Linked DNA regions of Homo sapiens. The protein of the gene in region 4 purifies or fractionates together with the protein of the main gene of each other region. This does not show direct contact. Each region holds a gene or a part of one and is shown on either strand. Other genes may lie near its edges.

The links.
Region 1: the proteins of HAT1 (region 4) and ASF1A purify together in Homo sapiens (affinity purification with mass spectrometry; 5 studies listed by BioGRID and IntAct, with this or other methods). This does not show direct contact.
Region 2: the proteins of HAT1 (region 4) and ASF1B purify together in Homo sapiens (affinity purification with mass spectrometry; 7 studies listed by BioGRID and IntAct, with this or other methods). This does not show direct contact.
Region 3: the proteins of HAT1 (region 4) and NASP purify together in Homo sapiens (affinity purification with mass spectrometry; 3 studies listed by BioGRID and IntAct, with this or other methods). This does not show direct contact.

Annotation. Positions count from the first base shown.
Region 1 is NC_000006.12:118,895,848-118,905,062, reverse strand, and holds part of ASF1A (histone chaperone ASF1A), read right to left. Parts: intron 4,298-9,215; coding exon 4,182-4,297; intron 1-4,181. UniProt on the Homo sapiens protein: Histone chaperone that facilitates histone deposition and histone exchange and removal during nucleosome assembly and disassembly.
Region 2 is NC_000019.10:14,126,528-14,135,742, reverse strand, and holds part of ASF1B (histone chaperone ASF1B), read left to right. Parts: intron 1-9,215. UniProt on the Homo sapiens protein: Histone chaperone that facilitates histone deposition and histone exchange and removal during nucleosome assembly and disassembly. Cooperates with chromatin assembly factor 1 (CAF-1) to promote replication-dependent chromatin assembly.
Region 3 is NC_000001.11:45,585,582-45,594,796, reverse strand, and holds part of NASP (nuclear autoantigenic sperm protein), read right to left. Parts: intron 3,575-9,215; coding exon 3,527-3,574; intron 1-3,526. UniProt on the Homo sapiens protein: Component of the histone chaperone network. Binds and stabilizes histone H3-H4 not bound to chromatin to maintain a soluble reservoir and modulate degradation by chaperone-mediated autophagy.
Region 4 is NC_000002.12:171,979,246-171,984,186, forward strand, and holds the end of HAT1 (histone acetyltransferase type B catalytic subunit), read left to right. Parts: intron 1-1; coding exon 2-118; intron 119-3,939; coding exon 3,940-4,107; 3' UTR 4,108-4,441; downstream 4,442-4,941. UniProt on the Homo sapiens protein: Histone acetyltransferase that plays a role in different biological processes including cell cycle progression, glucose metabolism, histone production or DNA damage repair. Coordinates histone production and acetylation via H4 promoter binding.

The DNA.
Region 1 (9,215 bases), on a different chromosome or scaffold from region 4:
AGATTGAGACCATCCTGGCCAACATGATGAAACCCCATCTCTATTAAAAACACAAAAATTAGCTGGGCATGGTGGCGGGTGCCTGTAGTCCCAGCTACTTGGGAGGCTGAGGCAGGAGAATCACTTGAACCGAGGAGGTGGAAGTTGCAGTGAGCTGAGATCGCACTACTGCACTCCAGCCTGGCGACAGAGTGAGACTCCGTCTCAAACAAAACAAAACAAAACTGAAAATGAGATGGAAATAGCTACATAGCAGATTTTCAAAAAATATTAATAATCCTCTATTATGAATAGTTACTTTGCTAGACTCTACAATATAGTATGCTCTTTAAACCACACATAATGTGGAAACCAGTGAAGGTAAGGATTGCTTTAGGCAGATGTCAAAGACCTTGTTTTAAATCAAGCTATTGTAAGGTGAACCTTGAGGAATGCAGAAAGTAAACTGAGTTAGACTAGACTAAGAGCATGAGCGAAGGGCAGGGCCCCATCCGTGGTAGGGTGCAGGTAGTAATGAGACGACCGGATGGAAGGAGCCAGACTGGGGAACACAGGCAGTGATGGCTGAGGCATCTGAGGCAGCCATTCTGGGTGGTAAATGGATCAAGTCCCAGCAAATTAGCTTACCTGTTGCCAGGGCACCAAGGAATATTCCTGGGCCTAGATGAGCACTTTAGCCAATGCCTTAGCTTGTGAAAATTGAAGACTGTTGTTTACTGTATGCCTAACACAGGTAGATGATACAAAAAGGCATAAAATCGCTACCTAGTGTCCTAGGCTAAAAACCTCAGTCAGCTTCACTCCCTTATCTCCTACATCTAGTCAGTCTCAACATTTTTTTCATTTCTGGAGGCTGAATTCATGTCATCTCCTATCTGGAATATTGCTTAGAATTTTCTAACTGATCTCCCCAGCTCTAGCCTATCATTTGCACTGCTACCAGCATTAACACAGATATGTTCTTTCTCTTTGGTTTTAAAACCTCAGATTATTAAAACCCTCAGAAGAGTATTCCCTTTTCTAAGGGATAAAATCTCAGTTCTTTAACTTCATTGACAAGGCCCTTCTCAGTTTGTCTCCAGCCAATATCTCCATTCATACCTCCTTTAACTCCACCATTGTTCTAGAGATATGAATCACACAGGTTCTTTAAAACGTGGTGATAATCTTTTCACGCTCTGAGCACGGTGGCTCACGCCTGTAATCCTAGCACTTTGGGAGGCTAAGGTGGGTGGATCACTTGAGCCCAGGAATTTGAGATTATCCTGGGCCACATGGCGAAACCCCATCTCTACAAAAACAAATTTAAAAAAGAAATACTTCACCCCCTGTGCTTCTAACATACTGTTCCCTTGGCCTGAAAGGTCCTTCGCTCACATCCTGAAAAATTCATCTTTTAATCTTTTTTGGAGCTTACATCGAGTGTATTCTCAGTGACGCCCTTTCTAACTCAGAAGGTAGAATCAATAGATTCCTTTTTTATGTGCTGATATTTCTTGTCACAAATTATCTAAGAACGTATGCCCTGTGATCTAAACATGTTTATTTTTCAGTCTTCTCTTCTAGATGCTATGCTTTATCCAGGGCAGGAGTCCCATCCAGTTCATCTTTATAATCTCGTGTGGCTCAGCTCTGAGCACTTAGTATTTTGGAATTCATTTGTAAATCAGTTCCTGCCCTGAAGGGGTTTATGATCTCTTGGCAAGACACCAGGATAGGGGACAGCCAGCCTTGTCCTGGAGAATATGCTGTTTGTCTTAGAGATTCTACACACCCCTGCACAGAGGGGTTAGATTACTTTCAGTGTACCCAAACGGATTCTAATATACCTGAAGTGGGTGGAGATGGGAAATATATAATAGTTCAGTACTGCTATGAGAACTCTTCCCCTTCCCTTCAGTAAATTGGTTCCCTTCAGTAAATTGGTTCTAGGCATGTTTCTGTTTTAAAATCTGTTGTAAATATAAAACATCTTTTAAAAAGCATTTTACAATTTGAAAAAGATTCAGTTTGAGCAAATTTAAGTAGAGAAGCTTACAGGCCTTTCAAATAATTTAGGATGCAGAAGTAATGAGCAGAGATCTTTGTTTTGACTCTAGCTGGCAATACTAGGCAGATGTCTGGACATCTTCCTGCTAGCCTTTGACTCACTCAGAAGAAAGACATGTTTAACTATTTAGAGAGGCAAAATCATGGCAGACCAAGAGATTACTATAGTAGTTTTAAAATACAAAACAAAAGCTGTAATTTAGTCTCTTTCTGTTGATAATGGTGAATTCTGTAAAACCTTTAGGCTGAATATACATTGTACCTCCTCTGTTCTTTTTGGCAACATGTACACTGACACCAAGGTAAAACTACGTGAAGATCACCAGCAGGAAATACTTTTGAATACATTTTTTTTGCTACAGCACTTTCAGCCAAAAGCTTAGGAGTATGCTTAATAACAAACACAAAAGATTTTCAAGGGTTTGTTTCAATAACAAGGCATTTATTTGTAAGTTCTTATAGTAGCCAAAAAAAAAAAAAAAAAAGTATTATCAGTACCTGTCAACCCAGGTTTCTTTTACTGTATCATGAATTATCAGTAAAGTATGGGTTCCTTAGGCCTGTGGGTCAGAGCAAGTCCTGCTTTTTTATATAACAATTTCAAGAAGTTAAGAGAATAAAAATGTAGTTCTAATTTTAGGAATAGGGCACTCTTTATGAGTGACTGATTATACTGTTTTATTCCCCATAACATTTTAATGAGATAGAATATTATCCACATTTTATAGAAGACTGGAATGACTAAGGGAGGAGGTTAGAGAGGTAAAGCCACACATGGCTAATACAGAGGTGTCGGGATTTGACCTATATCTATAACTGCAGTGCTTCCTTCTACAGAACAGGGCATTCTGTTACCCATGTCTTTTACATGGTTATGCACTCACACAACTTTGATTAACAGCACTTTTAATTCATATATTTGATTAGTATATTTGAGCTTTTCTTAGCTATTTCTTTAGATACAGTAAATTATTTGTTGCTTTTTAATCAAAAGTACTAAGGCTAGGAAACCAAGATTCTAAATTCTGTATTTAGGACAGGGGAGGGAAAGGTAGCAGCTCTAGAGATGGCATGTGTCTAAGTGATTCTTTGCCAGTTTCTGATGGGATTATTTGACCAATGGTATTCATTTAAATTGGTCCCATCTGTGAAGTGAGAAAACAGAGGTCAGGCATAGGAAGAGTTAGATTTTCTTTCTGGATTAAGTCTTTTCAGTGAGTTCCACTTAACTGATGGGACATTGCTGGGTTGAAATACTTGTAACAGAAATTAATAGTAGTTTTAAAAAACCTATGGCTAGTTACTCTTTGGTCTATTACAAACATCTCCCTTATAAATAAGCATGCATAATTGAGGAATAACTGAATGGTTCCATATAGCAATTTAACATGGATTAAAAGAAATAACACTTTTGAATATAGAAGACAATGTCTGAAGCCTTGGTATAGATCCAAATACTCTCAGTGGTATCTAAGAACAAAATTTTTATTACTAGAAATTCTCTTCACAAATACCTAGTGGGGTAGTAAATTTGCAAAAGTAGTCCTCTTATAAGATAATGTAGATTATAAGATGCTTTAGTAAACTCTGGAATGTCATTCCAATGACCCAAGACCACACATCTCTATCCACTAAACGTATCTGTTAACCTAGCTCAACTACTGATTATGCTGAAATAAAGTTGTTTTTGTTACATCACCATCAGTTCCAGTGGCTGAAACCATAAACTGAAGATGCATATTACTAACAATGCCAGTTAGTTTTAGATATTTTGAATCCATGTTTTGGGTTGCTAGACAGCCACCTTGGAAGTCTGATACTGAGGTGCTATTCACAGGAAGAGCCCCAAATTCACCACCCTGTGTGCCATGATACAGTATAAAATTTACTGTAGGTTGTTCATCTCTCTAAAGTAAACGTCACATTAACATCTCTCAGCATATAAAACCAGGAAGTAAGAGTTCCTCTGTGACACAGAGACTGCCTAAAACATGATGGAAACAGATTTAAAGTGAATGCAGCAGAAGCAGTTCTTTAACCCAAAAGGAAAGGGATAAGGGTTATAAGATAATAGATAATATAGTCTACTTCGAAACATATTTGGCATACACATTTACCAAGATTAATCTTACCTGAAATACAAACATATGCCTTCCTGCGGGAACAGGACCCACTAAAACAGAGTCTAAAACTTGATCGTATTCTTCACTTTCTGCAGAGCCCACATAGATAATTTTCCATTCCAAGTCTAGGGTTAAAAAACCAAAGCATTATTTCATATTCAGTAATTACATTACCAGATGACATCAAAGACCCTTTTAATGTCCACTTAGCCACTTACTGGCTTTAAAATTGGCTTCTCATAGCAATCCAGAAAGGCAGTGAAATGCTCCTTATAAAGTTCCTACCAGAGTTCACACTTTGATCAGAGTTTCTCAAAATACTCTTTTGTGAAACACTAGTTCCTGGACAGTGCCTCACAAACAAGATAACATAGCCAAACACTTGGGAAATGCTGTAAACCTTGTCTTGAGGATTCATAAAGCATGCTGGCACAGTAAGTTTTCTGAGATATCCTTCAGTAAAGAACACCAGTAACATTAATCCAGCACTTCCCAAATTTATTTGGCTATGGAATCCCCCTTTTTTTGTATATCATCTTTTAAGGCCCTTCTCAACACACTTTGGAAGGGCAGCCCTATACTACGCTGCAGAGATCCAAATAATCACAGAGCTCCAAAGTAGAAAAATTATTAGTAAAACCTCCCTCATGGCTCAGAAGTAAGTGGCTTCAGCTCATCAACTGTCAACGAACAATGGTAGGGTTTTTCCCTTACGGCACCCCCCTGTGTCATACATTCTTTAAATTGGGCAGAGGAAACCAAGATCTTTACACCACGTGATACAATAGAGTATACACAGTGGAGATAGGCAGGAGGAAAAGACATTCAGGTGCAATTCAAGGCGTTATATGTAATTCAATATAGCGGATTTTACTGAGCATGTTTTACAATGTGTTCTGTGAAGTGAACCCAGAGATGAGTAGAACTCTTTGGAGGAGTCTCCTGTTTAGCTGAGGAAGAAGATAACTTTGTAATACAAACCATCTCTGAGAGACCTCTTCATCTTCTTTGGGTATTTTGCACTGTGTGGCCTGCCTCTTGCATTCAACACACTGTTACACAAGCACTCCCAAAGGGTGAGTTTCTGGGTCACTCATGACAATCTAGTTAGTGCCACCATGTGTGGCCATTTTTGTGTAACTGTAGATATTTTTGTTCCCTAAATTGATAATAGAAATAGTAACGTACTGCTTATTTATATTGTATTGTAAACTACAATCAACTGAAAGCTCCTTTTTTATTTTCTCTTATTAAGTCAGCAATCATTTTCTGAGGACCTATTATGTCATGGCTCTGTCCTAGAACTAAACCATTTCTATTTCCAGCTTCCAGCACACTTCCAGATGCAGGGTGCTGCATCTGACATCTCCTGAGATCATCTGTTGATGGAGATAGAGAGGAAGTAGGCAATATAAGTATCTCGCCAGAGGGAACAGCAAATACAAAGGCCCAGGGGTAGGGCACACTTGGCAAGAAAAAGCAAGGAGGCTAGGGCTGGAGCAGAATGAAAGGAAGGAGGAAAGCACCAAACCCTATGATTGAGGATGAGGGGAACAGCCAGATCATGCGGTTTTGAAGGCCATCATAAGGACTCTGGCTTTCACACTGCGTGGCATGGGAAGCCATCGAAGGGTTTTGAGCAGAGCAGTAACAGGAGCCAACTTTCATTTTAAAAGGAATGCTTTGATTGCTGTGTTCAATATAGAGTGTAAGAGGACAAGGGAAGAAACAATATTTCAATAATTGAGGCAAGAAATTATGGTGGCATGGACCTCGTGTGGCCATGGGGCTGTGCAACAGTTATATTCTGGATAAAATCCTGAAGATGAAAGCAGCAGGAGCCACTTTTGCAGGGAGGTGATGTGGGGTAGGGGAGCAATCAGGAGTTCATTTTAGACATATTTGAGATGTCTGCTTCTAAGCAGAGATACTGAATAGGCAGGATAAAAATTTGGAACCTGTCAATGATATGTAAAGCCATAAAAATACATGGGCTTGCTCTAGGGAGTGAGATTTGAGCCCTCCAAAGATAAGAGGACAAATTAAGTTACAAAACAAGTGGCAAATGAGGTAGGTGACCCAAAAGCCAAGTGAAGAAACTGTTTTAAGAAAGTGATGTGAAAGGTACTAAACTAGCCAAGTGAGGATAAGACTAAGAATTATCACATAGAGTGGCTGGGCGCAGTGGCTCACGCCTGTAATCCCAGCATTGTGGGAGGCTAAGGTGGCTGGATGGCTTGAGGTCAGGAGTTCGAGACCAGCCTGGCAAACATGGTGAAACCCCATCTCTACTAAAAGTACAAAAATTAGGGGTGGCACATGCCTGTGGTCCCAGCTACTCGGGAGGCTGAGGCACAAGAATCGCCTGAACCCTGGAGGCGGAGGTTGCAGTGAGCCGAGATCGCGCCACTGCACTCCAGCCTGGGCAATGGAACGAGATTGTCTCCAAAAAAAAAAAAAAAAAATTATTACATAAAGGTTTTCATGAATTTTAATTTCATATATAATTGTATCACTACATATAATGCCCTTGATCCTAAGTGGTATAAATTCGCATTTGTGGACTGGCATAGGAACATAGCCATAATTTATAAACCTATTTTAGAAAATACCTACTATATACTGGGCATTAGTTCTACTTCATACCTATTGTTTAAACCTCAACAGCTTCATCATGTAGATCAAATTATCCCCATTATGCAAATAACTTGAGACTCTGAGAGGTTAAGTAATCTACACAAATTCATAATTTGTACATCAAAGAATCAGAATCCAAGCTATGCCTCTGTAACTACAAACCCCGGGCTTCTTCTGAAAACCTAACTGGGAAGATAAATTCTTTCTAGCTCTGAAATTAGCAGTGGAATAAGGGAATTTATTTGCAGGGGAAGTGAGAGCAGAGGAGATGGAGAGAGAATCTAGCCTTAACAAGAACAGGCTGCAACTCAGGGAACACTTGTACATTGATTTTTATGTTTATGGGATGCTTGCTACAGTTGCTGAGTTTTACATGCTCAATACCCTTTTATACATTGGCATCAGTTTTTTTGTTGTTTTTTTTTTTAACCCAGCTTTCATTTAATTCCTCTGCCCCCTGTATTTGAGGGAGGAAGGGTAAGGTCAGATGTTTTACATAAGTTCTCAGGTGAAGAAATTTGTTCATTTATTTTAAAGTTAACTTTTATTTAATCACAGTAATCATGATTAAATGATTTACCCAGCCTGAAAGTATTTACATTTGTGGTGAAAGAGTGAGTGAATGAGGGAAGTCATCAAGAGAATTTTTAGCTAATTACACTACTTGGGAAGACCTGTGGTCTAGTGGAAAGTATGTAGGCTTTGGAATTAGAACAAGCTGAAGTTGGAAAGTATGAAGCACCATGCTCAATTCTGGTATATTATAAGTATTCAATTGACAGTAGCTGTAATTAAGATATATATATATATAAATTTAAGAATGGCAGGATGGTCAATCAAAACTTGTACAGTCTTGGTGACCATCAAGCACATCCAGCCAGGGTCTCAGGCTGTCTTAACCCTTGATATAAGCCCTATATTAGAAAGAACCAAATTATCTTAAGACCAAATATTCCTCAAGGCTTTTTCTGAAGCAAAGCTACAGGGCAGCTCTTAAAGGAAAGTGAACGTTTGGGGCTACTGATGAAAGTATGAAAAACGGTGGCCAAACTCTGCTTTGAGACTTGAGGCAAAATAACTTATTAAGAAAATTCTTTTCAAAATATTCTATAGTTTGGGCTGGGTGCAGTGGGCTCACTATAATCACAACACTATGGGAGGCAGGGGTGGGAGGACTGCTTGAGCCCAGGGGTTCGAGACCAGCTTGGGCAACATGGCAAAACTCCGTCTCTACAAAAAATTAAAAAATTAGCCCAATGTGGTGGCACATCGACTATGGTCCCAGCTATTCAGGAGGCTAAGGTGGGAGGATTGCTTAAGCCCAGGTTGAGGCTGCAGGGAGCAGCTGTGTTTGCACCACTGTACTCCATCCAGCCTGAGTGCCAGAGCAACACTGTCTCATTTAAAAAAAAAAAAATTCTATAGTTTAATTTTAAGAACAGAATTTTTAAAAGAACTGTAATATAAAAGTATGGAACCTATTAGAAGCCTTTGCTAAGTAAAAATTTCCTTAATCCACATAGCCTCTAGGTGGAGTATACAGGCATGGCACCTTTTTGAAAGATTCCTTTGCAGCTTCAGTATGACTCAGCTTAAAATATTTTTTAAAATACTAAATAAATGCTCAGTAATGGTGCCTAGGAAGTGAAATATACCATTGGAAATAAGTATGTTTTTGACACCAGTACTGTAAATCCCTGATGTGATTCAGCTGGGTTCTGAATGGATCCCAGTTAAAAATGGAACGTTTTGGCTTTATGAATGGCTGGTTTCATCTATGCAATGTAAAAGCCCTGTAACGACATCCTGAGTCATCTATCTTCTTTGTTCAGAGCTGACTCCTAAAATGGAAGGCAACACTTGAGAAATACCTGTAATTTGAAGAACTTCTGGTGGTATATCTGAAAAACAGTGTGGTATAAGTTGGAATGGACCGATCAATGGTTTTTCTTTTGTCTATTTTTATATGCAGTTGGCAATAAAAAAAAAATTACTGTTGGGTGTGAAAAATGGGCCTGGTAGCTGCAATGCTTATATTAATAGTAGTATCATAGGAGAGTAATCAAATGACTTCAGAGTAATAAGAAAAATACCCCTTAGTGTTATCAATGGCCTATTTGAAATTATTTTAATAAATGAATCATCTTTCAAAATTTGCCCTATATATGTATGTGCATTTATGCTCTATATAGGTTTAAAAAAAAAAAAAAAACGGGGGCACATGTTAAAGTAATAATTGTGATTACCGAAAGGAGATAGGGCAAGGCACTGAGTACAGAGAACTGTTAACTTTATATATGCCTGTACAACTTTCTAAAAGTTTATTACAATGAATATATATTGTTTTATAATTAAAATTAACCTTACATATGATATATACATTTTAGAGATTAAAAACTAGTTTTT
Region 2 (9,215 bases), on a different chromosome or scaffold from region 4:
CATCTCCTATTTTCCCTATGGAGACCTCTCACCCAAGCTCCTCTCTCCTTGCCGTGAAGACCCTCCCCTCCAGTAACCTTTTTTTCCTGTGAAAACCCCTCAACCCCTTTTCAGGACCTCTCTCAACCCCATCTTCCCATTTGTGTCCCACCAGTCCCCTCCCCAACCTGCCAATATTTCAATAACCCCACGCCCACCAGTTGCTGCCGCTTTTCTGCCCCAATGCACATACCCTGGAACCTGGTTTCTCTCCTTCGTTGGGGCCCAACCCCCCTATGCTTGAGCTCTCCCTGGGAAAGGATGCTACCGTCTTTGAGGGGAACTTTGTCTCCCCAGCTCCCCTTCCCCACCTTTCTCTGTGGGCTTGGATAAACACACTGAGATCCGAGGGGTGGCATAGCCAGGCAGGCATTAGCTAGTTCTCCAGGTTTGCCCACCCGTTTCCAGCTGAGTTACTGCAGCAATTTTTCTGTCACTTTTTCTTTCTTCTTCTTCCTCTTCTTTTTTTTTTTTTTTTTTTTGAGACAGTCTCACTCTGTTGCCCAGGCTGGAGTGCAATGGCACGATCTCGGCTCACTGCAACCTCCACCTCCCGAGTTCAAGCGATTCTTCTGCCTCAGCCTCCCGAGTAGCTGGGACTACAGGCGCCTGTCACCACGCCCAGCTAATTTTAGTATTTTTAGTGGAGGCAGCGTTTCACCATGTTAGCCAGGTTGGTCTCGAACTCCTGACCTCAAGTGATCCACCCGCCTTGGCCTCCCAAAGTGCTGGGATTACAGGCGTGAGCCACCGTGCCCCGTCTTCTTCTTTTTTTTTTTTAATATAGCTGGATAATCAGTGCCAAGCTCCCGTTGCTTTTGATGGTCTGACCTAGTCTGGGGGGTGGGTGGATTGGGCTGAGCTGTGACGGGCTCCAGCTTCAAACAGTCGGCTGGAGCTTGGAGGTCACAGCCTCCTGTACATCTTTTCCAAGGTGCTTCCGTAGATGTACTTATTAATCTGTGTGACTTAAAGGTGGGCATGGCTCTCATCTCACAGATGAGAAGACAGGAGCCACAAAACGCAAAAGACCTTTCAAGTCAAGGCCTGTACAAATCCAAAATCTAAGGTCACCTAGGGAGCCTTGGCACCACTAACAGGCAAGTCCTGCTTTCAGGAAGAAGTACTCCATTAGGCCATTTTTCTACTTGGTGGTTGAAAGAGAAAAGGCAGCAGCCGAGGAGGTGGTGATCTGGGGGCCTGTGAAGCCAGGATATGCTAACTAGTGCCTCTCGGGGGCAGGTAGGTGTTTTGCCCTCAAAGCTGGTCGCCTGGACTAGCTTGGAGCTGATAGAGTGAGATGTGGATGTGCTTTGGGTAGGCCAGTGGGTCTGTCTCTCCCCGGTCTCTCTCGCTCCTTTTTAAATTAAGGAGTCTACTTGTGGCTAACTATAGAATATGCCGAGTTAAATCCTTTCTGGAACAAGGCAGCGGGTAAATAAATAAATAAAGTGTAGAATGACGCTGTGGAATAAGATTTAATTTAAAAGCCAGGAGGAGATGGAAGGAAGTAATAGGTTGAGGGATTCCCAGCTCCCCGACGGCAGGAGATCAGGTTTCAATCAGCCTGTTTGTGTTCCTTGCATTTAAAAATGGTTGTGGCCGAGCGCGGTGGCTCACGCCTGTAATCCCAGCACTTTGGGAGGCCGAGGCGGGCGGATCACGAGGTCAGGAGATCGAGACCATCCTGGCTAACACGGTGAAACCCCGTCTCTACTAAAAAACACAAAAAATTAGCCGGGCGTGGTGGCGGGCGCCTGTAGTCCCAGCTACGCGGGAGGCTGAGGCAGGAGAATGGCGTGAACCCGGGAGGCGGAGCTTGCAGTGAGCCGAGATCGCGCCACTGCACTCCAGCCTGGGCGACAGAGCGAGACTCCGTCTCAAAAAAAAAAAAAAAAAAAAAAAATGGTTGTGCGGTCATTATCTGGTACTTCTACTCCTAGGAAGCCCCTGCCCTGTGACTTTACTAACTTATTTATAGAATTAGAGCCGGAAGGGCTAAATTCAACCTGCTGGTCCTTTTTTTGTTTTTTTGGAGATGAAGTCTTGCTCTTGTCCCCCAGGCTGGAGTGCAATGGCGCGATCTTGGCTCACTGCAACCTCCACCTCCCAGATTCAAGCGATTCTCCTGCCTCAGCCTCCCGAGCAGCTGGGATTACAGGTGCCTGCTATGACGCCTGGCTAATTTTTGTATTTTTAGTAGAGACGGGGTTTCACCATCTTGGCCAGGCTGGTCTTGAACTCCTGACCTCAGGTGATCCGCCCGCCTCAGCCTCCCAAAGTGCTGGGATTACAGGCGTGAGCCACTGCGTCCAGCCTCTGCTGATCATTTTTTAATAGAAATGGAGTGACTTCACCAGAGTCACACAGCCAGTTTGTAGAAGTATTGGCACTGAAGTTTTGAATCTAAATTCTTTATCTTTGCTCCAATCCAGGGAAAGAAAGGAAGGATTCCCTGTTTCAGGGGTGGAGCATAGATAGGAATGACCACAGAATTTATTGCCTAATCAGGACACTCAAAATGCAGTGAAGGGAAGTGCTATTATTATTATTTATTTATTTATTTATTTATTTATTTATTTTTGAGATGGAGTCTCGCTGTGTCACCCAGGCTGGAGTGCAGTGGCGTGATCATGGCTCATTGCAAGCTCCGCCTCCCGGGTTCACGCCATTCTCCTGCCTCAATCTCCCAAGTAGCTGGGACTACAGGCGCCCGAAACCATGCCCAGCTAACTTTTTGGATTTTTAGTAGAGACGGGGTTTCACTGTGTTACCCAGGATGGTCTCGATTTCCTGACCTTGTGATCCGCCCGCCTCGGCCTGGGATTACAGGCGTGAGCCACCGTGCCCGTCGTATGATTATGATGATGATGATGATTATTATTAGAAATGGAATCTCACTATGTCACCCAGGCTACAGTGCAGTGGTGCAATCTCAGCTCACTGCAATCTCCACCTCTCGAGTTCAAGCGATTCTCCGGCCTCAGTATCCCAAGTAGTTGGGATTACAAGCTTGAGCCACCATGCCCGGCTAATTTTTGTGTCTTTAGTAGAGACGAGGTTTCACCATGTTGGCCAGGCTGGTCTCAAACCTGATCGCAAGTGATATGCCCACTTCAGCCTCCCAAAGTGCTGGGATTACACTTTGAATCCTAAGCGCCTGGCCAGAGAATGCTATTGTTAATTGTACCTGGATGATAAAGCTTTTCCTTTGAGTAACTCAAGTGAGAAATCCTGGCTCTTCCAGTCCTAGGGCTCTCTGTGACTGATCTGCCAGCTTGCTTTCTGCCTCCTTCTGGACTCCTCTCCATGAAAAAGGGAGAATCTGCCTCACTCTCAGCAGCGTCAACTGAAAATCTGACAAAACCCCCAACCCAGCTGTGTGAGGTGGCTCATGCCTGTAATTCCAGCACTTTGGGAGGCTAAGGAAGGAGGATCTCTTGAGCCCAGGAATTTGGGCCAGCCTGGGTAACATAGCAAAACCTTGTCTCTACAGAAACATCAAAAAATTAACGGGACTTGGTGGCACGTGTCTGTGGTCCCAGCTACTCAGGAGGCTGAAGTGGGAGGATTGCATGAGCCCAGGAGGTCAGGGCTGCAGTGAGCCATGATTGCACCACTGCACTCCAACCTGGGTGAGAGAGCAAGACCCCCATCTCAAAAAAAAAAAAAAAAAAAACCACCCTAACCCCTAAGCCCCAGTTGGGTGACCCCTATTTCTCAGGGGCCCCAAGCCCCCTTTGCACTTTTATCTTCCACATCTGGAAATAGATTCTTCCACATTTAGCTGAGAAATTCAACAGACACTGGTTGAATAAGTCATAGAAGCCAGATGTTCTGACCCAGAAATAACGAAGTTGTTATGGCAGCAGAGCTCATCTTTGATTATGAACAAAGGCAAAAAGCAAACAAACAAAGGAGGCCTGGCATGGTGGCTCACGCCTGTAATCCCAGCACTTTGGGAGACCAAGGCGGGCAGATTACCTGAGGTCAGAAGTTCGAGACCAGCCTGGCCAACATGGTGAAACCCCGTCTCTACTAAAAATACAAAAAATTAGCCGGGTGTGGTGGCGGGCGCCTGTAGTCCCAGCTACTCGGGAGGCTGAGGCAGGAGAATGGCGTGAACCCAGGAGGCAGAGCTTGCAGCGAGCCGAGATTGCACCACTGCACCCCAACCTGGGCAACAAAGCAAGACTCCATCTCAAAAAAAAAAAAAAAGAAAAAGCCAGGTGTGGTGGCTCACACCTGTAATCCCAGCACTTTGGGAGGCCGAGGCGGATGGATCACAAGGTCAGGAGTTCGAGACCAGCCTAACCGACGTGGTGAAACCCCGGCTCTACTAAATACAAAAATTAGCCAGGCATGGTGGCACGCAGCTATAATCCCAGCTACTCAGGAGGCTGAGGCAGAAGAATCGCTAGAACCCGGGAGGCAGAGGTTGCAGTGAGCTGAGATTGTGCCACTGCACTCCAACCTGGGTGACAGAGCGAGACTCTGTTTCAAAAAAAAAAAAAGAAAAAAAAAATGGCCAGGCACAGTGGCTTACCCCTGTAATCCCAGCATTTTGGGAGACCAAGGCAGGTGGATCATCTGAGGTCAGGAGTTTGAGACCAGCCTGGCCAATGTGGTGAAACCCTGTCTCTACTAAAAATACAAAAGTTAGCCAGGCTTGGTGGCAGGTGCCTGTAGTCCCAGCTATTTGGGAGGCTGAGGCAGGAGAAGCGCTTGAACCCGGGAGATGGAAATTGCAGTGAGCCCAGATTGCGCCATTGCACTCCAGCCTGGGCGACAGAGCAAGACTGTCTCAAAAAAACAACAACAAAAAAGCAGGAAGCAGACTTTTTAGCTAGTTCAGCTATACTAATTGTGTACATGTCTTTAGTCTTATCATTTATATATATATATATATATATATACACACAAACACACAGTGGAGGTATGTCTTGCACAGGGACTAGCTTGTGAAGTTAGCGCAGAGAGATAACATGGGACACAGTTGAGTTGCCTTGACATTGCTCAGAAGGTTAGGTACACACGTCATGTGTACAGCTGTGTCCTGTACTCATAGCTATGAGTTCCTGCTGTATTGGTGATTTGTGTCCCATGTATAATTCTAAAGAAAGATTATATTTAGAGATGAAATCATACACGTATGTCTCTACTTATAACACTGCAGCCAGATTTTTTTTTTTTTTTTTAAAGAGATAGGGTGTCACTATGTTGCCCAGACTGGACTTGAACTCCTGGGCTTAAGCAGTCCTCCCACCTCAGCTTCCTAAGTAGCTGGAACCACAGGTGCACATCACCATGCCTGGGCACTTCAGCAAATTTAAGATGATTCTCGACTGGGCATAGTGGCTCATGCCTGTAATCCCAGCACTTTGGGAGGCCAAGGCAGGCGGATCACAAGGTCAGGAGATCGAGACCATCTTGGCTAACACAGTGAAACCCCGTCTCTACTAAAAATAGAAAAAAAAATTAGCCGGGCGTGGTGGGGGGTGCCTGTAGTCCCAGCTGATTAGGAGGCTGAGGCACAAGAATGGCATGAACCCGGGAGGCGGAGCTTGCAGTGAGCCGAGATCGTGCCACTGCACTCTAGTCTGGGCAACAGAGTGAGACTCCATGTCAAAATAAAATAAAATAAATTAGAATTACAGGTGCACACCACCACGCCCAGCTAATTTTTTATATTTTTAGTAGAGATGGAGTCTCACTCTGTCACCCAGGCTGGAGTGCAGAGGCACGATCTCAGTTCACTGCAACCTCAGCCTCCCGAGTAGCTGAGACTACAGGGGCATGCCACCACGCCTGGCTAATTTTTTGTATTTTTTGTATCACCATGTTGCCCAGGCTGATCTCGAACTTCTGAGCTCAAGCAATCCACCCGCCTCAGCCTCCCAAAGTGCTAGGATTACAGCCATGATCCAATGATCCACCTCACCTGGCCCTATACCTATAACTCTTTTTTTCTTCCTTTCTTTCCTTCTTTCTTCTTTTTTTTTTTTTTTTTTTTTTTTTTTTTTTTGACGGAGGCTGGCTCTGTTGCCCAGGCTGGAGTGCAGTGGCAAAATCTCGGCTCACTGCAATCTCTGCTGCCTCCCAGGTTCAAGCAGTTCTTATGCCTCAGACTCCTGAGTAGCTGGAATTACAGGTGCACACCATCATGCCCAGCTAAATTTTTATATTTTTAGTAGAGATGGGGTTTCACCATGTTGCCCAGGTTGGTCTCGAACTCGTGAGCTCAGGCAATCTGCCTGCCTCGGCCTCCCAAAGTGCTAGGATTACAGGTGTGAGCTGCCGTGCCCAACCAGCTTCTGTAACTCTTGAGTCAGTATTTCTCTACAGCCGTTAGTTAATTCTCCAGTTTCTTTCCAGCCCTGGTTGAAAGAGCCATTTCAGCCCCTGTGCCTGACAGTCAACACAGTACATTTTTTCTTTTTCTTTTTTTTCCTTTGAGATAGGGTCTCTGTCGTCCAGGCTGGAATGCAGTGGCTCGATCATGGCTCACTGCAGCCCTGAACTCCTAGGCTCAAGCGATCCTCCAACCTTAGCCTCCCGCATAGCTGGGACCACCGGCACGCGCCACCACACCCAATTAATTTTGTTGATTTTTAATAGAGTCGAGTCTGCCTATGTTGCAGGGGCCCATTTATTTCGGTGAGTTTCCACATGCTCTTTGTTTAGGTTTTGCCGATTAGTATTGACCTCAGCTGGACAACATCAGGTGCTCGTGGGTACACTTTAGTCTTTTTTGTCTACCTTCCCAGGACATGAATTAAATGCACCCGTACAGGATTCTACCGGCTATGAGAGGAAAGGGCTCAAGGATATACACCAAAATGATACAACTGCTTTAGAAAGGAGAGAGCAGGGCTGGCTGGCTTTTCTGTCTTCCCCCAAAACTTGATTCCAGTTGTGTCACTACTTGTAACAAAAATAAATCAACAGGCTGGACATGATGGCTCAGACAAATTCCAGCACTTTGGGAGGCCAAGGCGGGAGGATTGCTTGAGACCAGGCTGGGCAACCAAGCAAGACCTCATCTCTAAAAACAATTTAAAAATTCCCTGGGCGTGTGGCACAAGCCTGTGGTCCCAGCTACTTGGGAGGCTAAGGCAAGAGAATCACTTGAGCGCAGGAATTTGTGGCTGTAGTGAGCTATGATTATGCCACTGCACTGCAGCCTGGGTGACGGACCGAGACCCCATCTCCAGTGAAAAAAGTCAACTTCCTCCCTGCAAATAGTAAGAGGCTAGTTCGACCAAACACCTGTGAGTTCAATGGTCACCCGTATCCTACAGACCTGCTATAGGGTTCCTGAGTGAAACCACAAAGGGACAGGCAGCCAGTGCATCAAAGAAGGGCATGGGGCTCAGGTGACAAGCCTCTGTAGTCATGACCTGGCAGCAGCATGCTTCCAAAGTTGGATGCTCTTGTGGGACACTGGACCAAGGAACAGGGCAGCTTCTGAGAGAGTTTGCTTCCTGTGAAAATCACAGCTTGTGAAACTTCCCCCAGCTGCTAGAGCTGAAGGGTTGTGTAATTTCTAAAGAGCCAAAAATAAGTTTCAAGCCTCTTGCCAAGCCTCCCTGTACCAGCATGACCTTGCCCCTGATACACTTGGACCTCCTGCAAGAGGCCATGTTGACCGGAATTTCCTGTGATTGACAGCCAGAGGTTCCATAAGCACTTTCCTTTCATCTCAATGGAGCATATTCAGGGGAGGGGGCCCTCCTGCTGGATGGGGTGCAAGAGTTAGGGTTTGAGGCTGGGCACGGTGGCTCACACCTGTAATCCCAGCACTTTGGGAGGCGGAGGCGGATGGATGACCTGAGGTCAGGAGTTCGAGACCAACCTGGCCAACATGGTGAAACCCCATCTCTACTAAAAATACAAAACATTAGCCGGCTGTGGTGGCGGGCGCCTATAATCCCAGCTACTCAGGAGGCTGAGGCAGGAGAATCACTTGAACCCGGGAGGCAGAGGTTGCAGTGAGCCGAGATCTCACCATTGCACTCTAGCCTGGACAACAAGAGTGAAACTGTCAAAAAAAAAAAGTGTTTGGAGGATCACCCCGGGATGCCACATTTGTTGACTGAGTTGCCCAAATGTCTCTAAGTAGGCATGACTTGGTGCCAGATCTGGAAGACCAGGGTGGCTGGCTCCCTGAGCAACCTCACCTTCCCCCTCCTGCAGGCTGGCTCTCCTGCCGGATTGGAATCTGCCACCCTGCCCCAGTTGTCGAGGGATCCACTTCGTTGAGTGGCACCGGTCCCTGTGTGTGAAAGAGGATGCTGCTTCCTATCCCAGCACCCAGTGGGCAGGGCCCTGAAATGACCCAACTCCCTGCCGTTCCCTTCTCAGCACGTCTGTGTCACGTGGCTCTTAATTCAGCCTCTGCCATACAGTTCACGCTCAGGCCTTGAGAGGCCCAGGTTTCCCCAGAGGTATAGTCAAGGTCACCTGTCATAGCTAGGCTTACAAGACAGAATTCCCTAATGGAGGTAGAGCTTTGTGCCCACCTCAGCATTCAAGACTGCAGTGCCTGGCACTAAGTGTCTGACAGATGGAATAATAGTCTTTTAACATATTAAGGATCTGTCTAAAATTACCACAAGGCTGGGCACAGCAGCCCACACCTGTGATCCCAACATGGTGGGAGTCCGAGGCAGGAGGATCGCTTGAGCCCAGGAGGTTGAGGCTACAGTGAGCCATGAACATCCCGCTGCACACCAGCCTAGGCAACAGAGGGAGACTGTCTCAAAAAATAAGTAAATAAAAATAAAATAGAAGATGTGGCCGGGCGCAGTGGCTCACACCTGTAATCCCACCAGTTTGGAAGGCTGAGGCGGGCAGATCACTTGAAGTCAGGAGTTGGATACCAGCTTGGCCAACATGGTGAAACCCCATCTCTACTAAAAATACAAAAACAGGCCAGGTACAGTGGCTCACACCTGTCATCCCAGCACTTTGGGAGGCCAAGGCGGGTGGATCACCTGAGGTCAGGAGTTCTAAACCAGCCTGATCAACATGGTGAAACCCTGTCTCTACTAAAAATAAAAAAATTAGCCAGCCATGATGGCAGGTGCCTGTAATTCCAGCTACTCAGTAGGCTGAGACAGGAGAATCGCTTGAACCTGGGAGGCAGAGATTGCAGTGAGCCAAGATCACACCAT
Region 3 (9,215 bases), on a different chromosome or scaffold from region 4:
ATGCCAAGCATAGTGGCTCACACCTGTAATCCCAGCACTTCAGGTGGCTGAGGTGAGAAGATGGCTTGAGCCCCAGCCTGGGCAACGTGACGAAACCTCATCTCTAAAAACAAAATACAAAAATTAGCCAGGCATAGTGGCACACATCTGTGATCCTAGCTACCCAGGAGTCTAAGGCAGGAGGATCACCTGAGCCCAGGGAAGGTCAAGGCTGCAGTGAGCCACGATCGCTCCACTGTACTCCAACCTGGGCAGTGAAGTTTAATACTGATGATTACATATCAAGCACTGTGTTTTGGATAGCCTAGCTACATTTAGTCAGTCCAGAAACTTAAATACTATGGTACATCCTATGAGTAACCCCCTTGAAAGTATTGTGTTTAGGATCAACCCTAAACAGTATTCAGTATTCATACCACCCAAATACCAGATTAACTCACAAGAAATTTTGTTGTTGTTTGTTTTTTTTTTTTGAGAGTTTCGCTCGTCACCCAGGATGGAGTGCAGTAGCGTGATCTTGGCTGACTGCAACTTCCACCTCCCGGGTTCAAGTGATTCTTCTGCCTCAGCCTCCCAAGTAGCTGGAATTACAGGCGCTAGCCACCACGACCGGCTAATTTTTGTATCTTTTTTAGTAGAGACGGGGTTTCACCATGTTGGCCAGGCTGATCTTGAACTCCTGACCTCAGGTGATTCACCCACCTCAGCCTCCCAAAGTGCGTGAGCCACCGCGCCTAGCCCTATTTTGTTTCTTTCCTTTTTTTTTTGGAGACAGGGTCTCACTCTGTCACCCAGACTAGAGTGCAGTGGCAGGATCATAGCTCACCACCACCTCGACTTCCTGGGCTTCCGCAATCCTCCTACCTCAGCCTCCCCAGTATCTGGGACCACACGCAAGTGCCACAACGAACAGTTAATTAAAAAAAAAATTTTTTTTTTTTGTACAGATGGCGTCTTGCTATGTTGCCCAGGCTGGTCTCGAACTCCTGGGGTCATGTGATCCTCTCAGAGATGGAGGTCTTGCTTGGCCTCCCAAAGTGTTGGGATTACTGGTGTAAGCTACCACACCCAGCCAAGCAGTATTTCATAAGACTTATTTTAACCCTTTTCCCGTTTAAGAGAAAAAAAAAAAAGTACAGCTCATTGCCAGCACTCATTTAATTTTACATAAACATGTTCTTTGAAGCTGAAGCAAATCTGACTTTCAGCATGAAAATAAAAATATAAAACTGTTCTCGGAGTTTTTTTTTTTTTTTTTTTTGGGGGGGGACAGTCTCACTCTGTCACCCAGGCTGGAGTGCAGTGGCACAATCTTGGCTCAATGCAACCTCCACCTCCCAGGTTCAAGTGATTCTCTTGCCTCAGCCTCCCGAGTAGCTGGGATTATAGGCGCCCGCCACCACGCTCAACTAATTTTTGTATTTTTAGTAGAGAGAGGGTTTCACCATGTTGGCCAGGCTGGTCTTGAACTCCTGACCTCAAGTGATCAGCCCACTTCAGTCTCCCAAAGTGCTGGGATTACAGACATGAGCCACCTGCCTGGCCGGAGTTATTTCTAAACACAACTAATATCAGAATCGCCTATTTCATAAAAATTGGATTCATCAAATGAATCTTTGGCCAACAACCATTTGAGAATGATGTTAACATCATACATAGGAATGCTACGTTTTCTAGGATTTGACATTTACAGCAATCGAGAATTACCCTATTTTGTAAATGGAAATAACCATTACTAAAAACAGAGTGCTATAAACAGAATGATGTCTTTTTATCCAAAATCTATATATTAGAGTGATGTGAAAATAATAATAAAGGAGAGCTATTTCATGGCAGTTTTCACTGGGTAAATGCAGCAGCCCCAAGCACCACCAGCAAGTATTCTCAGGGCAAATGGGAAAAGGGTTAAATAACCAAGATGACAACAGGATTTCAAACATGAAAAACATAAAACCCTATGGACGCTTAAAAAATGTATTTGTGGCCGGGTGTGGTGGCTCACGCCTGTAATCCCAGCACTCTGGGAGGCCAAGACGGGCAGATCGCCCGAGGTCAGGAGTTCGAGACCAGCCTGACCAACATGGCGAAACCCTGTCTCTACTAAAAATACAAAAATTAGCCGGGCATGGTGGTGGGTGCCTGTAATCCCAACTACTTGGGAGGCTGAGGCAGGAGAATCGCTTGAACCCGGGAGGCAGAGGTTGCAGTGAGCCAAGATCATGCCATTGCACTCCAGCCTGGGTGACAGAGTGAGACTCCATCTCAAAAAACAAACAAACAAAATATTTGTAAGATATTCTAACAGTAATAATTCTCAATCTTATCAGAAAGCTTTTCCATAACACATGAACCCAAATTTTATCTCAAGCTCAACAAATAAAATCAGCTGGGCATGGTAGATCAGGCTGGTAATCCCAACACTTAGGGAAGCCAAGGCAGGGGGATTGCTTGAGCCCAGGTTGGAGACCACCCTGGCCAACAAAGCAAGACTCCGCTTCGAAAAATATAATTCGGGTGGGCACAGTGGCTCACGCCTGTAATCCCAACACTTTGGGAGGCCAAGGCGGGCAGATCACCTGAGGTCGGGAGTTCAAGACCAACCTGGCCAACATGGTGAAACCCCATCTCTACTAAAAATAGAAAAATTAGCTGGGTGTAGTGGCACCCGCCTGTAATCCCAGCTACTTGTGAGACTGAGGCAGAATTGCTTGAACCCAGGAGGCAGATGTTGCAGTGAGCCAAGATTGCGCCACTGCACTCCAGCCTGGGCGACAAGAGTGAAACTCAGTCTAAAAAATAAATAAAATAATTAGCCAGATGTGGTGGTGCATGCCTACAGTCCCAGCTACTCAGGAGGCTGAGGCAGAAGAATCCCTTTAGCCCGGGAGTTCGAGGTGGTGGTGAGCTATGATAACATCACTGAACTCCAGCTTGGGCAACAGAGCAAGACCCTGTCTCTAAAAAATGAAACAAGAAATCTCTAGGGATGTAACCTACCATCTACCTTTTGGGTAAGCTTTTTAGTTAATTATTATGCCCACCTCTGATTAAGAAACATAGTCACTACGGGTGTAGATCTGAGATAAAGAAAAACAAAAAACCATAGCCATATCAAGATGGAAACGTTACAGGGGGAGGAGGTGAGACGGGCCTGGTAGTTCACACCTATAATCCTACACTTTGAAAGGCTTAGGCAGGGAGGAATGCTTGAGGCTAGGAGTTTGAGACCAGCCTTGGCAACATAGCAAGACCCCATCTCTCCAAAAAATTTAAAAATGAGCGAAGTGTAGTGGCATGTGCCTATAGTCCTAGCTACTCAGGAGGTTGAAGTGGGAAGATTGCTTGAGCCCAGGAGTTCAAGGTTGTAGTGAGCCCTGATTGCACACTGCACTTCGGCCTGAGCAACAAAGCGACACCTTGCCTCTATCAAAAATAAATTAATTAAAAAATAAAAATAACTTTAAAGTTATATTGCTCTTAGTTTATGTTTCTGATACGAATCTAACTACCATGTAAATAATCTTACCTCTCCACTTTATCTGCAGATGTAGAAGGAGCAGGAACATCTTCAATTCTGTAATAAAAAATTAAAGGGGAAAAAATGTAAAACTGGAGGCAATTATTAAGCCTGAAAATAAAATAAATTCAGAAAAATATAAAGGAATAAAAGAGCTGTCATTTATTAAATACTCAAGTATTATTTACTTACTTACATTATCAAATTTAATTCATTTAATTCTTACTCACTCAAATATCCAGGGCTGAAAATAAGTGGCAACTTCACAGCTATAACCACAGGGATGAGGAACAACTTAAAGGGCAGTGCTTTCAGCTACAGGTTGTAAGCTATCTGGGCCATTTGCCTAGAATCTTGAAATGGTCTTGGATCCTTATCTACAAACTCCGTCACAGCCAGTCATGTATATCGAATAGTTTTATTAAGAGGTCATTCTGACCAAATGGTCTAGCACAGAGCCTCTCAAACTACCTGTGGTTAAGGGACTAGGTCTTTTATTTCCCTATATAACCTTCTATAACACACAGGTTTTTTTAAATACAATGTCAGGGAGATATCACAGCGAGACTCCGTCTCAAAAAAAAAAAAAAAAAAAAAGTTACACTATGACTGCAATATAAGACTCTGAATTGAATACCATTAAAAGCAAGGAACCAGTAAAAACACTATTAAGTATCATTGTAAAGCATTTATCAGTGATAAATTTCTTTTCTTTTTTTTTTTTTTTTTTGAGACAGAGTCTTGCTCTGTCGCCCAGGCTGGAGTGCCCTGGCACGATCTCCGGCTCACTGCAAGCTCCGCCTCCCGGGTTCACGCCATTCTCCTGCCTCAGCCTGGGCCTGGTGCCAGGCCGGTGCCTGTGCACCGGCCACCATGCCCGGCTAATTTTTTTGTATTTTTAGTAGAGACAGGGTTTCACCGTGTTAGCCAGGATGGTCTCGTCTCCTGACCTCGTGATCCACCTGCCTCGGCCTCCCAAAGTGCTGGGAATACAGGCGTGAGCCACCGCGCCCGGCCGATAAATTTATTTCTATTCTTGCTTAGCACAAGCCTAGACAAATAGAAAAGAGGGTGAACTAAGGCAGTACTTGTATAGTTGGAAAAAAAGATGAATTAAAGCAGTGTTTCTCAAATTTTAGTCTGTATGCAAACCATTTGGAGGAACGGTTATAACAGTTTGAGCTCCACCCCCTACAGTTTCTGAGTCAGAAGGTTTGAGGTAAGGTTGAAGAATCTGCATTTCTAACAACTGCCCAGGTGACACACTGCTGGTTTCTAGAACCATGCTCTGAGGACTACTGGATCAGAATAAAAATTATAAATGGATGTTCATGTCCTATCTGGGCAATAGGTATGTCTGATTCAGTTTTGTTTTGTTTTTGAGACAGTCCTTCTCTGTTGCCCAGGCTGGAGTGCAGTGGTATCATCTCAGCTCCCTGCAACCTCTGCCTTCTGGGTTCAAGCCATTCTCCTGCCTCAGCCTCCCAAGTAGCTGGGATTACAGGCGCCCACCACCACGCCTGGCTAATTTTTCTGTTTTTTACCAGAGATGGGGTTTCACCATGTTAGCCAGTCTGGTCTCGAGCTCCTGACCTCAAGTGATCCTCCCGCCTGGGCCTCCCAAAGTGCTGAGATTACAGGTGTGAGCCACTGCGCCCAGCCTGATCCAGTTATTTTTTAAAATGTTAATTCTAATAGTCACTACATTTACAACTATGAAGCTATGGCTTCATAGTTTTATGACGTTCATTATGAATTTTTAGAATGAGCATGAATCCAGAGAAGTACTAGAGGAAATGATAGGGAAATTACTTGGTAATTTGTTTGGAGAAGGCCGTTTTAAACCCAGAAACCAGACTGGGTGCAGTGGCTCTCTCCTGTAATCCCAACACTTTGTGAGGCCTAGGTAGGTGGACTGCTTGAGCTCAGGGGTTCAAAAACCAACCTGGGCAACACAGCGAGACCTATCTCTACCAAAAATAAAATGAGATGGGCATGGTGGTACATGCCTGTAGTCCCAGCTACTCCAGAGACTGATATGGGAAGATTGCTTGAGCCCAGGAGATAGAGGCTGCAGTGAGCTATGATCATACCACTATACTCTAGCCTGGGTGAGAGAGTAAGACCTTGTTTCAAATAAATAAACAAACAAACCAGAAACCATAGGATATTGACAGATTCTACTCCATCTAATTCATTTCACAAAAGGTTAACTTAGCAAATATACATAGAATCTTAGTCAACAGGATAAAAAAGCCCAATGGGAATAGATTAATGGATTTAATATAAACACTCACAAACAAACAAACAAACAAACAAACACTTGACCACCTGCTACTGCTCATTCTTTTGTTTTTGAGACGGAGTCTCGCACTGTTGCCCAGGCTGGAGTGCAGTGGCGCGATCTCGATCTCGGCTCACTGCAAGCTCCGCCTCCCGGGTTCACGCCATTCTCCTGCGTCAGCTTCTCAAGTAGCTGGGACTACATTTTTTTTTTGTATTTTTAGTAGAGATGGGGTTTCACCGTGTTAGCCAGGATGGTCTCGATCTCCTGACCTCGTGATCTGCCCACCTCGGCCTCCCAAAGTGCTGGATTACAGGTGTGAGCCACCGCGCCCGGCCGCTCATTCTTAAGAGAAACAAAAAAACTATACTTAGAAAGTATGTTTTACCCATCGAATAGTCAAAGATAGGGTTAAGGAGAAATTGTACTCCCATACATTGCTAACAGAAATTCAAGGCTAGGCTCACAGCTATAATCCCTGCACTTTGGAAGGCAGAAGGACTGTTTGAGGCTAGGAGTTTGAGACCAGGCTAAGCAGCAAAATGAGACCCCTTCTCTAGTTCAAAAAATTAATTTTAAAAAAAGAAGTGTAGCCTGGGCACGGTGGCTAACGCCTATAATCCCAGAACTTTGGAAAGGCAAGGTGAGTGGATCACCTGAGGTCAGGAGTTCGAGACCAGCCTGGCCAACATGGTAAAACCTCATTTCTACTAAAAATACAAAAATTAGCCAGGTGTGGTGGCGGGCGCCTGTAATCCCAACTACTTGGGAGGCTGAGGCAGGAGAATTGCTTGAACCCTGGAGGTGGAGACTGCGGTGAGCCTAGATCGCACCAGTGCACTCCAGCCTGAGCAACGGAGTTAGACTCTGAATGACTACAGTCATGCGCAACCACGCCTGGCTGATTTTTGTATTTTTAGTAGAGACGGGGTTTTGCCATGTCAGCCAGGCTGGTCTCGAACTCCTGGCTTCAAGTGATATGCCCGTGTTGGCTTCCCACAGTGTTGGGATTACCACGTGAGCCACACCACCTGGCCCTTTTTTTTTTGAGATGGAGTCTTGCTCTGAGGCTAGAGTGCAGTGGCACAATCTCGACTCACTGCAACCTCTGCCTCCCGGTTTCAAGCGATTACAGGACCCTGCTACCCATGCTCGGCTAATTTTTGTAAACTGTAGTCTCAGCTACTTGGGAGGCTGATGCACAAGAATCGCTTGCACAGGGGAGGCAGAAGTTGCAGTAAGCCAAGATCTGGCCACTACACTCCAGCTTGGGCAAGACAACAAGACTCTCTCTCCAAAAAATTAATTATATATATATATATATATATATATATGAAAAAACTCAAGACAAACCTCATAGCCTAGAAATGTTGAATTAACAAAATGTATGTAATCAATGCATAAAAGATATGTAGGTACTAGTCTTCTTCACTACCATAAAATACAAATTATAAAAAGTTAAAATTCATCAAAACACACAGACCATACACGGCACCATCCACAGTTGAGATATGTAAATGAACAAAGATGCAGTATTAAATCATAACTGCAGCCGGGCACGGTGGCTCACGCCGAGACCGGCTGATCACCTGAGGTCAGGAGTTCGAGATCACCCTGGCCAACATGGCAAAACCCCAAAAAATTAGCCAGGTGTGGTGGTACACACCTGCAGTCCCAGCTACTTGGGAGGCTGAGGCAAGAGACTTGCTTGAATCCGGGAGGGCGGAGGTTGCAGTGAGCAGAGATTGTGCCACTGCACTCCAGCCTGGGTGACAAAACTCCCTCTCAAAAAAAAAACAACAAAAAAAAACCAACTAAGAACTAGTTAGAAAGCTAAGAATGACAGGATTAATTTAGCATGTAGATATACATCACCTTAAACAATACTGCTTTAATGGCACGAGGGGACAAAAGCCAACCTAAGACTTTTTGCAGACGACAAAACTGTGGTCCAATATCACTACTGAAGCAATGAAGCTGCTATCAAAGCCAATTCTAAGCCAGGCGAGGTGATGCATGCCTGTAGTCCCAGCTACCCAGAAGGCTGAGATGGAAGGATTGCTTGAGACTAGGAGTTGGGAATCCAGCCTGGGCAACATAGTAAGATCCTCATCTCCTAAATTTAAAAAACCTGAACTGAGGTTTATTTCTCATTCCATTTTTTTTCTTTCTACTGGTTTGGAAGTTATATTTATTCTTTCAATGGTCATCCTCGAATTATAATGTACATTCTTACCTAAAGTCTAAATTCAAGTCATTTTCTTTATCCTACCCTTAAACATGAGGACCTTATAAACTTTACCTCTAAGTGTCCCCACTAACTTACTTAACTGAGACACACTGCTTTCATGTTCTCTCACACTAATTAGATGGGGAAACGAAGAATGAAAATGAAAATGAAAATACTAGCCAGGCTTGGTGGCTCACGCCGGTAATCTCAGCACTTTGAGAGGCCCACGTGGGTGGATCCCTTGAGCCTAGGCGTTGGGAGACCAGCCTGGGCAACATGGCAAAAACTCGTCTTTACAAAATAAATACTAGAATCAGCTGGGCCTTGTGGTGTGCGCCTGCAGTCCCAGCTACTCGGGAGGCTGAGGCCGGACAATCACTTGAGGCCAGGAGGTAGGGGCTGCTGTGGGCCGAGATGGCATCACTGCACTCCAGCCTGGGTGACACACACACACACCACACACACACACACACACACACACCACACACACACACACACACACACACACACACACACACACACACACGGCACGGTAGGGGCTGCAGGGGGCCGAGATGGCATCACTGCACTCCAACCTGGGTGACAGAGACCCTGCCCCCCCACCCCCACACACCCAGCACATATAATTGCTCAGTTTTAGCTTTCAATTTATGCTGTGAGGAACTAAATGGTTTGCTTTCTTCTAGCCACATATACATAAACTTTCTCTATGTATAACCTGCCAGGAAACTAAATTCACTAATGACCTAACTCTGGCTAGACACAGGGGACCTGCAAGAGGTATTTGTTGCATACTTCTACCTCAAAAAACAAAAACAAAAACACCTGGCCCTGCGCCGTGCCTCACGCCTGTAACCTCAACACTTTGGGAGGCCAAGGCGGGAGGACTGCTTGAGTCCAAGAGTCTGAGACCAACCTGGGCAACATTAAGACCTTGTATCTACAAAAAATTGGCCAGGTGTAGTGGCACACCTGTAGTCCCAAGCTACTAGGGAAGATCAGTTGTGCCCAGGAGTTCGAGGTTGCAGTGAGCTATGATCACAACACTACACTCCAGTCTGGATGTGAGATCCAGACCCTGTCTGCAAAAACAAAACAAAAACACACAGCTGTCAGTGAAATACTGACTGCTAGAGCTGTCTAGGAAACATTATAAAAAGCAGCTCTTTTTATAATAGCTATAG
Region 4 (4,941 bases):
GCAACACGCTAGAAGGGTTTATGAAATTCTTCGACTACTGGTAACTGACATGAGTGATGCCGAACAATACAGAAGCTACAGACTGGATATTAAAAGAAGACTAATTAGCCCATATAAGGTAGGACTTTCAAGAATCTTAAACACTGTATTCTTTTCACTGTTTAAAACAGAAGAAAAGCTACCAAATATCAGTATATGAGAGAGTCCAAGTCATTTTGTAAAATTAACTTTTACAAAAGTAGAAATATTCTTCCAGTAATTTATAAAAATTCTCACTCATGGCCGGGCGTGGTGGCCCACACCTGTAATCCCAGCACTCAGGGAGGCCAAGGCGGGTGGATCACCTCAGGTCAGAAGTTCAAGACCAGCCTGGCCAACGTGGTGAAACCCTGTCTCTACTAAAAATACAAACATTAGCTAGGCTTGGTGGTGGGCGCCTGTAATACAGTGACTTGGGAGGCTGAAGCAGGAGAATCGCTTGAATCCAGGAGGTGGAGGTTGCTGTGAGCCAAGATTGCACCATTGCACTCCAGCCTGGGTGACAAGAGCAAAACTCCATCTGAAAAGAAAAGAAAAGAAAAGAAAAAAAACCCGGGTGCAGTGGCTCACGCCTGTAATCCCAGCACTGTGGGAGGCCGAGGTAGGTGGATCACTTGAGGTCAGGAGTTCAAGACCACCCTGGCCAACATGGCGAAACCCCATCTCTACTAAAAATACAAAAATTAGCTGGGCATGATAACACGTGCCTGTAATCCCAGCTGTTTGAGAGGCTGAGGCACGAGAATCACTTGAACCCAAGAGGTGGAGGTTGCAGTGAGCTGAGATTGTGCCACTGCACTTCAGCCTGGGTGACAGAATGAAATTGTGTCTCAGAACAAACAAACAAACTTATCCCAAGGATAGTCTACCATGGTTAGCTTTTCTTTCATTTGTATGCATCTTTAAAAAATCTGAATGCCTAGTCTCTTCCCTAACAAATTATGTTGTTTTTCCCAAGTTTCTTGTCTTCTCAGTTGTTATATATATATATTCTCTTTTTTCTCTCTTCCCAGATAAAAGCAAAGTTATACATATATATTCTCTTTGCTTTTGCTTTCTTCTTCCTAAAAATAGCCTTTATTGCTATTTATTAATATAATCTTTGTACTTTACCATAGCCGAAACCATGTTAGTACTATTATATTTTTAAACATTCTTCTTGCCCTTTTTTCCCACTTCGTCGTCATCTTCCATATTTTCCCTCCTAGATCAAATTGGCCTTATCATTTGGACATTGTCAGGATGGATATTGTTTATGCCACCTTATGTGAATGAAAATTTGCTATCTAGGCAAGGCGTGGTGGCTCATGCCTGTAATCCCAGCACTTTGGGAGGCCGAGGTGGGCAGGTCACCAGAGCTCAGGAGTTCAAGACCAGCCTGGCCAACATGGCAAAACCTCGCCTCTACTAAAAATACAAAAATTAGTTGGGTGTGGTGGTGGGTACCTGTAATCCCAGCTACTTGGGAGGCTGAGGCAAGGGCATCACTTGAACTCGGGAGGCAGAGGTTGCAGTGAGCTGAGATCATACCACTGCAATCCAGGCTGGGCAATGGAGCAAGACTCCATCTCAAAAAAAAAAAAAAAATTTAAAAAAAAAAAAAGGCCAGGTGCGGTGGTTCACGTCTATAATCCCAGCAATTTGGGAGGCTGAGGCGGGCAGATCATCTGAGGTCAGGAGTTCGAGACCAGCCTGGCCAACATGGTGAAACCCTGTGTCTACTAAAAATACACAAATTAGCCAGGCATGGTGGGAGGTGCCTGTAATCCCAGCTTCTCCGGAGGCTGAGGCAGGAGAATTGCTTGAACCTGGGAGGCAGAGGTTGCAGTGAGCCAAGATTGCGCCATTGTACTCCAGCCTGGGTGACGAGCAAAATTCCATCTCAAAAAAGAAGAAAATTTGTCATCTAGTTGCAGCTGAGTAGTGGGATGATTGGCAGAATATTTAATTTATTCAACATATAATTATTGAGTACAGTTGCTCAATGATAAAATGTTGTTGCTGCATTTATATATACTATACCTATAGGGTTATACATCACAATAGCTGGGAACATAAGTGACCAAGTTGATTCTACATTACAATTTGAGAAAGTAAATTAACTAACTGTATCAGGTACACATAGTTTTGGTTTTCCTTTGTAAATTTAAAGAAAATTTAAGTTTTATTTGCCATGGATTCTGCTTTATAGAGCCAGTCTTGAATGCTGATGGTTCATTGGCTGACACTACTTGCTGAATCCCAACTTTTCCTTCATAGCATCTTTTTACTTTGCAGTGCAACTGTATTTCCTAATTTGTCATTGTAATTCTGTTCACATTCTGAATATAAAATTATTATTTGCCTATGACTAAATCATTTTATCTTGAATTCATACACAGATGTATGAATAGTTCCTCATAGTGTCATTTCATTGCAGTTTAATAGTTTTTCTATTTTACAGACCATCATCTGCATATAGCAGGTTTGTAATAAATTATAATGGTCTCCTCAAAAGTTATCCAAAGTAGCATTTTATTATTTGATGTTATCAATTCAGAAACATCAGAAAATGGGTAAAAATGGTATTTTCCAAAGGTTTTGACCTTTAAGTAATATTTGTTAGCTAGAAAATGTCTTAATGATGAAATTTGGGCACAGAGAGCAGTATAGATGGCAACATTTAAGAGTTATTAAGATTTTACTAAAGTAAAATAATTTATTGAATTATATATTTTAGATATTAATGTGACTTTTATATAAAATATAACAAATGAAAGATGGAAATTCTGAGTACAAATAGTAGTCACACAGCTAATGCCAAATAATGGGAACCTCTGTAGTTCATAAGTGCAAGTATTTTCTACTCTTAAAGAATGATAATTCTTTTTTATATTATTATTAAGTACCTTTACCTGTCCAGCCAGTTCACCAGTCTAAAAGGCCAGAACTGGGCCGGGTGTGGTGGCTCATGGCTGTAATCCCAGCAGTTTGGGAGGCCAAGGTGGGTGGATCACTTGGGCCCAGGAGTTCTAGAACAGTATATCCGAAACATGAAAGCTTCATATTTGCAATAATGCCACCCAACCAGGAATCCTGGAGTTATTCTTCATTCTTCCTTCCTCATATCACCCAGTATTTTCTCCCCTAAATCTGCCCTGTCCTCTCCATCTCTGCTGCTGCTGACTTGATCTAGGCTTTCATCAACTCTGGCTTGAACTACTGCAGTAGCTGCCCAGTCCTCCAGTCCCATCCTAAACATCTCTGACACAGTGTCCTGCATAAAAGTTGTTATCAGCTACCTGTTGCAAACTCCTTAGCATAGCGGTATCCTAAGTCAAACCAGGAGGGTTTAGTATGATAATGTATGTCTGGAACTTAATAAAGACTCAAATGCTATTTAATATATTTTTAAAGTATAGCAGTTTTCCATTTGTCTTTCTGAAACATTTCTAACAGTTTATGTTAAAATTAGCATGTGGCCCGTAAGTACTTCACTGGGTGGAATTTAAAATGTAATTAATTAATGACTGAATAGTAAAATGAAGAATAATAGCACTTAATCTCAGTTGTCTTTCTTCAGCTAATGTCTTCTATCTATTAAGCAAATATTTGAGTGTCTATACTGCCCAGAGTTCTTTAAAGTTTTGGAGGGGGCTGCTAGTCACATGTCTGTATTTACCATCATTGGACACAAATACCAGGTCTTCTTGTTAACTCTTTTTAGAGGGTTTGCAATTCATGGTTAACATTATGTTTAAGCTTCCTTAAAAAACAAAACAAAACAAAAAAAAAACATTGTGGGACAAGTTTGGGCGTATTCATACTATTCTTATTTTTAACATTGGAGACTTAAAATTGTAAGACTATAAGGAAATATATTTACTTTCTTCGTCTAACAAATAATTGTTTGTCACTTAGAAAAAGCAGAGAGATCTTGCTAAGATGAGAAAATGTCTCAGACCAGAAGAACTGACAAACCAGATGAACCAAATAGAAATAAGCATGCAACATGAACAGCTGGAAGAGAGTTTTCAGGAACTAGTGGAAGATTACCGGCGTGTTATTGAACGACTTGCTCAAGAGTAAAGATTATACTGCTCTGTACAGGAAGCTTGCAAATTTTCTGTACAATGTGCTGTGAAAAATCTGATGACTTTAATTTTAAAATCTTGTGACATTTTGCTTATACTAAAAGTTATCTATCTTTAGTTGAATATTTTCTTTTGGAGAGATTGTATATTTTAAAATACTGTTTAGAGTTTATGAGCATATATTGCATTTAAAGAAAGATAAAGCTTCTGAAATACTACTGCAATTGCTTCCCTTCTTAAACAGTATAATAAATGCTTAGTTGTGATATGTTAATGTGTGATGATATGATTCTTAAATACTTACAATAAACCTCATTCTTAAATACTTATCATTCCTTCCACACTTTGCTTCTAAGATTTTACATCTGACACCTTTAAAACATTTCTTTAAGGTTATCCTGGTAATTTTATTTTTTCAATATGATTTTTCTTTCTTTTTTAACTTTTAGATTCAGGGGTACATGTGGAGGTTTGTTACATAGGTAAACTAGTGTCTTGGGGGTTTCTTGTACAGATTATTTCAACACCCAGATACTAGGCCTAGTATCCAATAGTTAATTTTTCTGCTATTCTCCCAACCTCCACCTTCAAGTAGGCCCCAGTATCTGTTGTTCCCTTCTTTGTGTCCATGTGTTCTCATCATTTACTCCCACTTGTTAAGTAAGAACATACAGTATTTGGTTTTCTGTGCCTGTGTTAGTTTGCTAAGGACAATGGCTTCCAGCTCCATCCATGTCCTGGCAAAATACATGATCTTGTTCTTTTTTATGACTGCATAGTATTCTGTGGTGTGTATATACCACATTTTCTTTATCCAGTCTGTCACTGA